Regions from separate parts of the Homo sapiens genome. Here all the other regions are linked to region 3. The links come from fine-mapping of genetic effects on gene expression. A gene starts in region 3. Each other region holds a variant in brackets. All regions are shown on one strand. Distances are between the middles of the regions. Region 1 overlaps CROCC2 (ciliary rootlet coiled-coil, rootletin family member 2). Region 2 overlaps CROCC2 (ciliary rootlet coiled-coil, rootletin family member 2). Region 3 holds the start of SNED1 (sushi, nidogen and EGF like domains 1).

Region 1 (2,750 bases), 51 kb before region 3:
TTTGGGTTGGGGGAGGGCATCTGGAAGAGGTCAACCCAGTGAAAGCGCTGGGGTCACCCTCCTGAAAGAGGTGGTGGCAAGTGCAGAAACACAGCTCAGACCAGGGGAAGGCAGATGTGGAATGTCTTGCTCATGGAGCTGAGGAGTTCAGGGTGAATCCAACTTCAGGTATGGCTGGATTCAGGCACTCCCACAGTGCCCTCAGAATCCTGCTTCTCTCTCCCTCAGCACAGCTTGACTCTGAGATCTTTTTCCCAGGCAGGCTTACTCTGAGAGGTGGCAAGATGGCCAGCAGCCACCCCAGGGTCCCCCTTCCAGCAGATGCAGAGCACCCTTCTCCCTGCAAGGCCTGAGAGCGGCTGCCATGGGCCGTCTTGAGCTGTGTGACATCCCTGTACCAATCCTAGGAGCTGGGAGTCACAGGGCCTGATCCCAGGCTTGGGCTGCACACCCATCCCTGGAGCCAGAAGCAGGGTCAGCCCAGGGACACATGAGGTGGAGAGTGTGGGCGGGTGAGCCCAAAGGCCCTCAGGGCAACTCCCAGAAGTTGGGACGGGCACTCGCAGGCAAGAACAGGATGTGTGTAGGCTGTTGCCTGGTGATCTGAATGGGTCCTGCAGCCTCTGCAGAAACCCAACAGCTGATGGCTTCTGTGCCTTATAGGCCCTGCTTAGGGCCCTGCTCAGGCACTGCTAAGCATTTTTGTTGAAAAGATTTCCTCCTGGAATTCTAGAATCTGGGAGGCATGAGAAACCTTGGAGTCTGGGATCCTCGAGCTTCACAGACAAACCTCTTCTCCAAATGAAAGCTTGCACAGCAAGGAAAACCTGAGGGAGGCTGCTGCGGGTTGGGCTCCTGCCCATGCTCCCTCCTGGGCCCTGGGGGCTCCAAGGACCGGGGTGGAGGTCCCTTTCCTGCTGTCAGGGTCTACTGCCCAGAACACAGGCCCCAGCCAGAGCCCTCAGCAGCCTGGGTGCTGCCCTGACAGCTGCCCCTACCTCAGCCCTGCCACTGACCCGAGGTCCCTGCACATGGCAGCCCTGCAGGCCCCAGCATCACAGGCCACTGAACAGGGCATCCTGATGGCCCATTGAGCCTCTGGTGACAGAGGGGCTTGACCTGAAGCCACGTCTGCCCGGACACACTCTGTGTGTTTATCTGACTGGCCCAGTGGGGCCAGAGAGCGTGGAAGCTGCCATTGATGAGCTCGCAGGTAACATTCAGGACCATTAAGTGTGGGAAACCGTGCTGCAGCTCCTTGCTTCTGATGAGGCCTCCCCACGGGTCTGCTTTATGAAGGGCTCCACTCTCGGATCCTCAGGCCCTGACAAGGCTTCAGCAGTGGGGACCTGCTCCCTCCCTTCATGGAGTCCTGGCCCACTTGTCAGCCAGCAAGATGGACCAAGGTCCCCGCCAGCCCACACCCCAAGCAGCCCTGCCTTGCTCAGAGCACCCCGTGGTGGGCCAGGCCTCCAGTCCAGGGTCTCAATGGCAGAGCCCCTGGA[GT/G]TTCTCCTGGGCCCCCAAGGAGAGAGAGGCTGGGCACACGCTCAGGTCCCCAAGCTTCAGGCAAAGACATCTGATGTCTGAGCAGCAGAGGCCACATCCCTTACAGGAGACCAGGCGGGCCTCTAGGAGGAGGGGTTTCCAGGCTGACTTGAAGGAAAGGTTTCCTACACGCAGAAGGGGGAAGAGCTGCCAGGTGAAGAGAGCACTCAAGCCTGGGAGTGTTGGGATGGGGGCCATGAGGAACACTTACGGGAGGAGGGACCGGAGAGGGAGCAGAGTAGCATGCAGCAGAGTGAGGTCTCTGGGGGTTCTGACCTGAGCCCAGAGGACTTCCCTCTGCGAGCCCTGGCGAGCCCCAGAAGGCTTGGATGTGCTCTACCCCGATGAAGGGGGTGGCGGTGGCCAGAAAGATGGAAGAGAAATGGAGGCAGGGCCTGATCAGGAGCTGCCAGGGTCTCTGTGGCCCATGGCCCACCCTGACCTCATCTGTTTGGGGTTGTGCACCTACCATTTGTGTGTTCATATGGGTGTCTGTGTTTGAGTCTTTGTGATGTGTTTGTACGTGTTGTTTAATGCCTTGCTTTGTTCACGGATAAACACCCAGCACAGGGCAGCGAACAGCAACAATGAAACTTGCCATTGATGGTTGGATCATTGATGAATTAACTGTTAGAAATGTGAGGTCTTTTATCACCCCTCCCTCCCAGGAATGGGCACTGCTGTGTGTTGGTGTGTGCTCCAGGTGTCTTCTGAACAGTGGCATCTCCATGCACAAATGCACCAAGCAGGCTTTTCACATGATGGAATCACGCCGTATGTGGGGGTCCAGTTGCGTGCGTGGCTTTTTGGGGGGACTCTTTTCATGACATGAGAATAGAAAATAGTTTCCTCATCCTTGTTAACAGCACATGGTGCTCCAGAGATGCACCATAATTTCTAAAACATTCTTCCATTTATTTGCATTTCAGCTGAGTCTCATTAACACCTGTGTAAAGCTATAGAGAGCATTTTACACGCAGGATCTTGGGGATGACTTGCCCATTGTTTGCTGCATCTTTGCAGGGTGGAGAGGGACTCCCTGGAGAGCAGCCTCCTTGAGGCCCAACAGCTGGCCACAAAGCTGCAGGAGCAGCTGGAGGAGGAAGCCCGGAGCGCAGGACTCGCGCGGCAGGCCTTGCAAGGTGCTCCAAGGGCGCTCCCTCAGCTCCTTCCCCGAAAGTCAGCCATGGAGGGGCCCCTGGAAT
Region 2 (2,750 bases), 23 kb before region 3:
TTAATCTGATTTGCCAACGGTTCATGTTTTATTCCTCTTTTCAAAGAATCAATGTATCTCTTCTTTTATTTTTGTTTAGTTTATTGATTTCAGCTTTTATTTCTAGGAACACTCTATTTTTATTTTTAGTTTACTTTTTTTTTTTTTTTTGAGGGTCTTGCTCTGTCACCCAGGCTAGAGTGCAGTGGCATGATTTCGGCTCACTGCAGTCTCTACCTCCTGGGCTCAAGCGATCCTCCCACTTCAGCCTCTTGAGTAGCTGGGACTACAGGCACATGCCACTACACCTGGCTAACTTTTGTATTTTCTTTCTTTTTTTTCTTTTTTTTTTTTTTTTGTAGAGATGGTGTTAAACCATGTTGCCTAGGCTAGTCTCAAACTCCTGAGCTCAAGTGATCCACCCACCTCAGCCTCCCAAAGTGCTGGGATTACAGGCATGAGCCACCACACCCAGCCAACACCCTCTTTTTGTTGTAATTTTTCTTATTTCTTGAAAGGAATAAGTAATTTGTTTATGCTTGGGCTTTCTCTTTAATAGTAAGAGCATTTAATGTGATCCCATTTTCCCTAATTGTGGTTTGGTACGTGTCCCATCAGTTTTTGATGTGAGTTCTTTTCCTTTTTACCAGTTTTCTAGAAGTTTCCATTTTTATTTCTTCTTAAATTTGGGGGTTATTTGAAAGCATGAGTGTGTGTTTGTGCCACTTTTTATTGCTTACGTCATCTTCCTGGAGAGGCTGTGGCTTTGGGCAGGGATGACGGTTTTCTTTTGATCAGTGTCTGGGTGGATCTTTGTTTATGCTCCTGCTTTGTCAGTTGTTTATTGGTCGTTTGCTTTTTTGGTTTGGTTTTGTCTATTTGTTTGTGATGTGTTTAGAGAATACTGGACAAACTGATTGCAAAGTTTACAGGAAAGAATAGATGTTTGAGATTTTCCAAGAAAATTTTGAAAGTGAATAGTACAACAGGCTATAATGCTAGTATGGTCAAAGCAGGAGAGGCTGGTAGAATAGATGCAGAGGCAGCAGGGCAGGCCAGAGTCCAGAGGAGGCCCTGCCACCATGAACTGGCACCAGACCCTGCCCTCTGTCTGGCCCCAGAGTCCCACTGTGTGGAGTGAAGGGCTCCAATCCCCTTGTATCTGAGGACTGTCCAGAGCTAACTCTGTCCTGTGACTGGCCTGAGGGCAGGA[C/G]GGGGCAGCTCGCCAGTGCAGGGAGACCAGGGGATACCTGCCAGTGGGCAATCAAATTGGCCCATCGTCGCCCAGTGGATAAATGGGTATGAGGCTGAGGACCCCAATTCCAGAGCCCAAAGGATGGATTTGGCGAGTGTTTATGACGTGTCCTGTCCTTCTCTGTGCAGCCGGCAGGACGCTTAACGAGGCCTTTGTCCCTTCTGCTCCTGTTCAGATATTTCCCAGCCTTCGCTCCCAGCCTTCCATGCAAGCCCTTCATTTGTAACAGCTTCCCTGGGGGCATCTCAGAATCCAGCATCCAACCAGCCTGCTTTTTTTTTTTTTTTTTTTTTTTTTTTGAGACAGAGTTTTGCTCTCGTTGCCCAGGCTGGAGTGCAGTGGCACGGTCTTGGTTCACTGCAACCTCTGCCTCCCAGGTTCAAGTGATTCTCCTGCCTCAGCCTCCCAAGTAGCTGAGATTACAGGCGCCCGCCACCACGCCCGGCTAATTTTTTGTATTTTTAGTAGGACTGGGGCTTCATTGTGTTGTCCAGGCTGGTCTCGAACTCCTGACCTCAGAAAATCTGCCCATCTCAGCCTCCCAAAGTGCTGGGATTACAGGAATGAGCCACAGCGCCCAGCCCAGCCTTCTTTTGGTCTCAACGAGACCCCTGTGAGACTGCATCATACCCATGCCCCAGATGGGGAGACTGACACTGCAGCCCCACATGCTGGCTCCAAGACCGGGCTCATCCCTGCTCAGTCTCTGGGGTAGGAGCCTCAGAAGCCCAGGCTCATCCCTGCTCAGTCTCTGGGGTAGGAGCCTCTGGAGCCCAGGCTCATCCCTGCTCAGTCTCTGGGGTAGGAGCCTCAGGATCCCAGGCTCATCCCTGCTCAGTCTCTGGGGTAGGAGCCTCTGGAGCCCAGGCTCATCCCTGCTCAGTCTCTGGGGTAGGAGCCTCAGGAGCCCAGGCTCATCCCTGCTCAGTCTCTGGGGTAGGAGCCTCTGGAGCCCAGGCTCATCCCTGCTCAGTCTCTGGGGTAGGAGCCTCAGGATCCCAGGCTCATCCCTGCTCAGTCTCTGGGGTAGGAGCCTCAGGATCCCAGGCTCATCCCTGCTCAGTCTCTGGGGTAGGAGCCTCAGGAGCCCAGGCTCATCCCTGCTCAAGCTCTGGGGTAGGAGCCTCAGGATCCCAGGCTTATCCCTGCTCAGTCTCTGGGGTAGGAGCCTCAGGAGCCCAGGCTCATCCCTGCTCAAGCTCTGGGGTAGGAGCCTCAGGAGCCCAGGCTCATCCCTGCTCAGTCTCTGGGGTAGGAGCCTCAGGAGCCCAGGCTCATCCCTGCTCAGGCTCTGGGGTAGGAGCCTCAGGAGCCCAGGCTCATCCCTGCTCAGGCTCTGGGGTAGGAGCCTCAGGAGCCCAGGCTCATCCCTGCTCAGTCTCTGGGGTAGGAGCCTCTGGAGCCCAGGCTCATCCCTGCTCAGTCTCTGGGGTAGGAGCCTCAGGAGCCCAGACTCATCCCTGCTCAGTCTCTGGGGTAGGAGCCTCTGGAGCCCAGGCTCATCCCTGCTCAGTCT
Region 3 (2,750 bases):
TTTCAGGAGGTGCCAGTGCAGGGTCAGCTCCTCCTTAACAATTCTGCACCCGGCCCTGACACCAAGTCTAAAGGGTCATGAACCTCTGAGTGAAAACACCAAGTGCAGGATCTGTGAGAACCGGCAACACCCAGTCACACGCAGAGAACCCTCCGCTGCTTCTTAAAAATAACATTGACTGTGCCTGGCTCTCACTGAAAAACAACACGTGCTCACTTGAGATATTTCAGAAGATACAAACGCAAAGACAAACAAAAAACCACCCAGCACCTCAGTGGTAGATGCAGTTACCATCAGCCCGGCCTTTCCTGCTTGTCTTCGAGGGGTGCACTCTTATCTTTGGGGGCCCCAGTGTGGCACGCAGCCAACACCACCCAACACCAGGATCTAAGAGAAGAGACCACGGTGGGCCGGGTGAGTTCCAGGAATCAGACCCTGCCATGGGCCTGGGGACATAGAGGTGGTCCCGGCTGAGGCCCTGAGGAAGGACAGACAGGCAGCCCAGGCCAGCAGCCCAAGAGACAGGGGGCAGGGCTGGCAGGCCACAGGGTGGGGACCCTGAATTCAAATACTGGGACTCAGAGTCCTGCCCCCACCTGCCAAGGCCGGTGTCATGCACGCACTTGCCCCCAGGGCCTGAGTGGGTCAGTCTTCCCCACGGAGGGTTTGCTTTACCCAGGGGTCGCCCCGAGGTCCCGAGCCTCCCAGGAATTTCTCCTGATGCGGCCACGCAGATGCAAACACTTTGTTCCATGCCTCCTAGTCTCCGGCCCGGGCTCTTCCTCACACAGACCCAGGCAGGGAGTGGGCTCCGGGGTTAGTCTGCCCCTGTGGCTGGAAGCCTGGCGTCCCCATGCTCAGGGCTGGGAAGGGGGCAGCACGGAACGGGTTCATTCAGGCACTGCCTGGCCAGGGTCCCCTCCCGCCCCCCGCGTGATGACACGCCTTCAGGGCGGGCCCAGCGTCTCAGGCCTTAGGGACACAGGTCTGTCCCAGGACGGCACTGAGGGCCCAGGCGCCTCCACCAGGGTAGGGACCCAGGGCGGAGCATGGCCCCACCACAGGGCGCGCGCCCGCAGAGCCCTCACCTTGCCTGTGCCCACGCCAGGGGACTGAGCTCCCCGCGCGCCCGCGCCCTCCCACGGGGCCTGGCGCTTTAAGAGACGCCCGATTTGCATGGCCCCGCCCCCCCGAGTGACCGCCGGGCTGGATATTTAAATCGTGGCCCCAGGGGCGGGGCTGGCCCCGAACGCGGTCCCGCCCGGCGCTTTCCTCTGCGGAGCTGCGGCGAGAGCGCGGCCCGGCCGAACGGGCGCGGGACGCGGAGCCCCCGACGGCGCGGCCAGCGGGCGCGCCCGCGCTCCCCGCACCCCGCCTGGCCCTGCCGGCCACCCCCGCGCGCAGCCTAGTCCCCCAGCGCCCTGCTCCGCCAGCGCCCCGTCCCGCCCGCACACCTCCGCGATGCGGCACGGCGTCGCCTGGGCGCTGCTGGTGGCCGCGGCCCTGGGGCTTGGGGCGCGCGGGGTGCGCGGCGCGGTGGCCCTTGCCGACTTCTACCCGTTCGGCGCCGAGCGCGGCGACGCCGTCACCCCCAAGCAGGACGACGGCGGCTCGGGGCTGCGGCCGCTCTCGGTGCCCTTCCCGTTCTTCGGTGCCGAGCACTCCGGACTCTACGTGAGTAACCCCCGGGCTCGCGGGGCGCCCGGGAGGGGAGGGAGCTGCGCCCCGGCCGCTGCCCGCCGGGCCCGGACTCCCGCCGCCGCCGCCAGCCACTTGGCACCGGGGCGGCCCGAGGTGGAATGAGGACAGCGCTTCCTCCTCGGCGGCCAAGGCCGGACAGCGGCCCGCGGGAGAGGCGCGCGGGCGGGGCGGGGGCGGCAGCCGCCGGGCACCGAGGCGGGGGCGAGTGGAGCGCGGCGCCCCGGCCCCTGCCAGACCTGCCGAGCGCGTCTTCCCGGCGCCTGATTCCCAGGGGAGAGCAGGGGTCCTGGTACTGCCCTGGTTTTCACACATGGCAATGTGGCCGTGGGCACGGGCTTCCCGGGCCTCAGTTTCCCAAGTGGGGCGCCGGGCCTGCGAAGGTTGCAGCCCCTCCTTGGGCCATTTCAGCCCCGCCCCCCGTGGACGCCAGTGCGGCCCAGAGCCAGGAGGCTGGACCCCTTGCCCAGGCGCTCAGGGCAGGGCCTGCTTCTTCGCTGACCCTCCTAGGCGGGCTAGCAACAGGCTTGCCCCTCCCTGCCGTCCTCTCCGCAGTCTGGGGGCTGGCCGCTCAGGCTCAGACTCTCCAAACAGGACTCCCAGTGGGACTCCTGGGGCCAGGGACTCATGACAGCAGGCTCAGCTCAGCTGAAGGAACAGGCCCGAGTGCCGGTTCTGTCTCCATGGCTCCCAGAGTGTGACCCCAGGCCAAGCCCTTATGGCAGCCCAGGGAATGAAATGCACCTGGTAACTGCATGGAGCACTCGCCCTGAGTAGGCCACGGTGCACTGGTACCTGGTGGTTCCCTGAAACACCCCAGATCATATCTAGAAAACTGCTGGGCCAGCCTCAAGTAGAGTCCCCTCCAGCTCCGTCACCACGGCCACCTCCACCATCAGCCCTCTCATACCCTCGCCCACCTCCAGCCTCAACCCACTGCCAGCCACATCGCCTCTGCCATCTGTGCTGCCCGGAGTAACACCACCTGTACTGCCAACTCCTCCGTCAACACCACCTCCTTCAACCCCACCACCAGCAGCACTGCCTCCACC

What was found. PIP is the estimated chance that this variant, and not a neighbour inherited with it, causes the effect. A credible set is the group of variants that fine-mapping cannot tell apart.
Region 1: its variant is the best candidate, but not a certain one, in a credible set for the expression of SNED1 in whole blood (INTERVAL, PIP 0.52).
Region 2: its variant is the best candidate, but not a certain one, in a credible set for the expression of SNED1 in whole blood (INTERVAL, PIP 0.78).

Annotation. Positions count from the first base shown.
Region 1 is chr2:240,946,411-240,949,160 of GRCh38, forward strand. CROCC2 (ciliary rootlet coiled-coil, rootletin family member 2) reads left to right here. Exons shown (of 32, transcript NM_001351305.2): 16 at 2,569-2,687. Among named protein-coding and RNA genes, the nearest start is that of UICLM, 20 kb to the right of the region's middle. RefSeq lists an enhancer at 2,714-2,750. The variant GT/G (reference allele first, on the strand shown) is at 1,506.
Region 2 is chr2:240,974,214-240,976,963 of GRCh38, forward strand. The region is part of intron 27 of CROCC2 (ciliary rootlet coiled-coil, rootletin family member 2); the gene reads left to right. Among named protein-coding and RNA genes, the nearest start is that of UICLM, 8.1 kb to the left of the region's middle. The variant C/G (reference allele first, on the strand shown) is at 1,193.
Region 3 is chr2:240,997,377-241,000,126 of GRCh38, forward strand. It overlaps SNED1 (sushi, nidogen and EGF like domains 1), which reads left to right and starts at 1,242. Exons shown (of 32, transcript NM_001080437.3): 1 at 1,242-1,674. The coding sequence starts at 1,462. RefSeq lists a silencer at 874-1,293.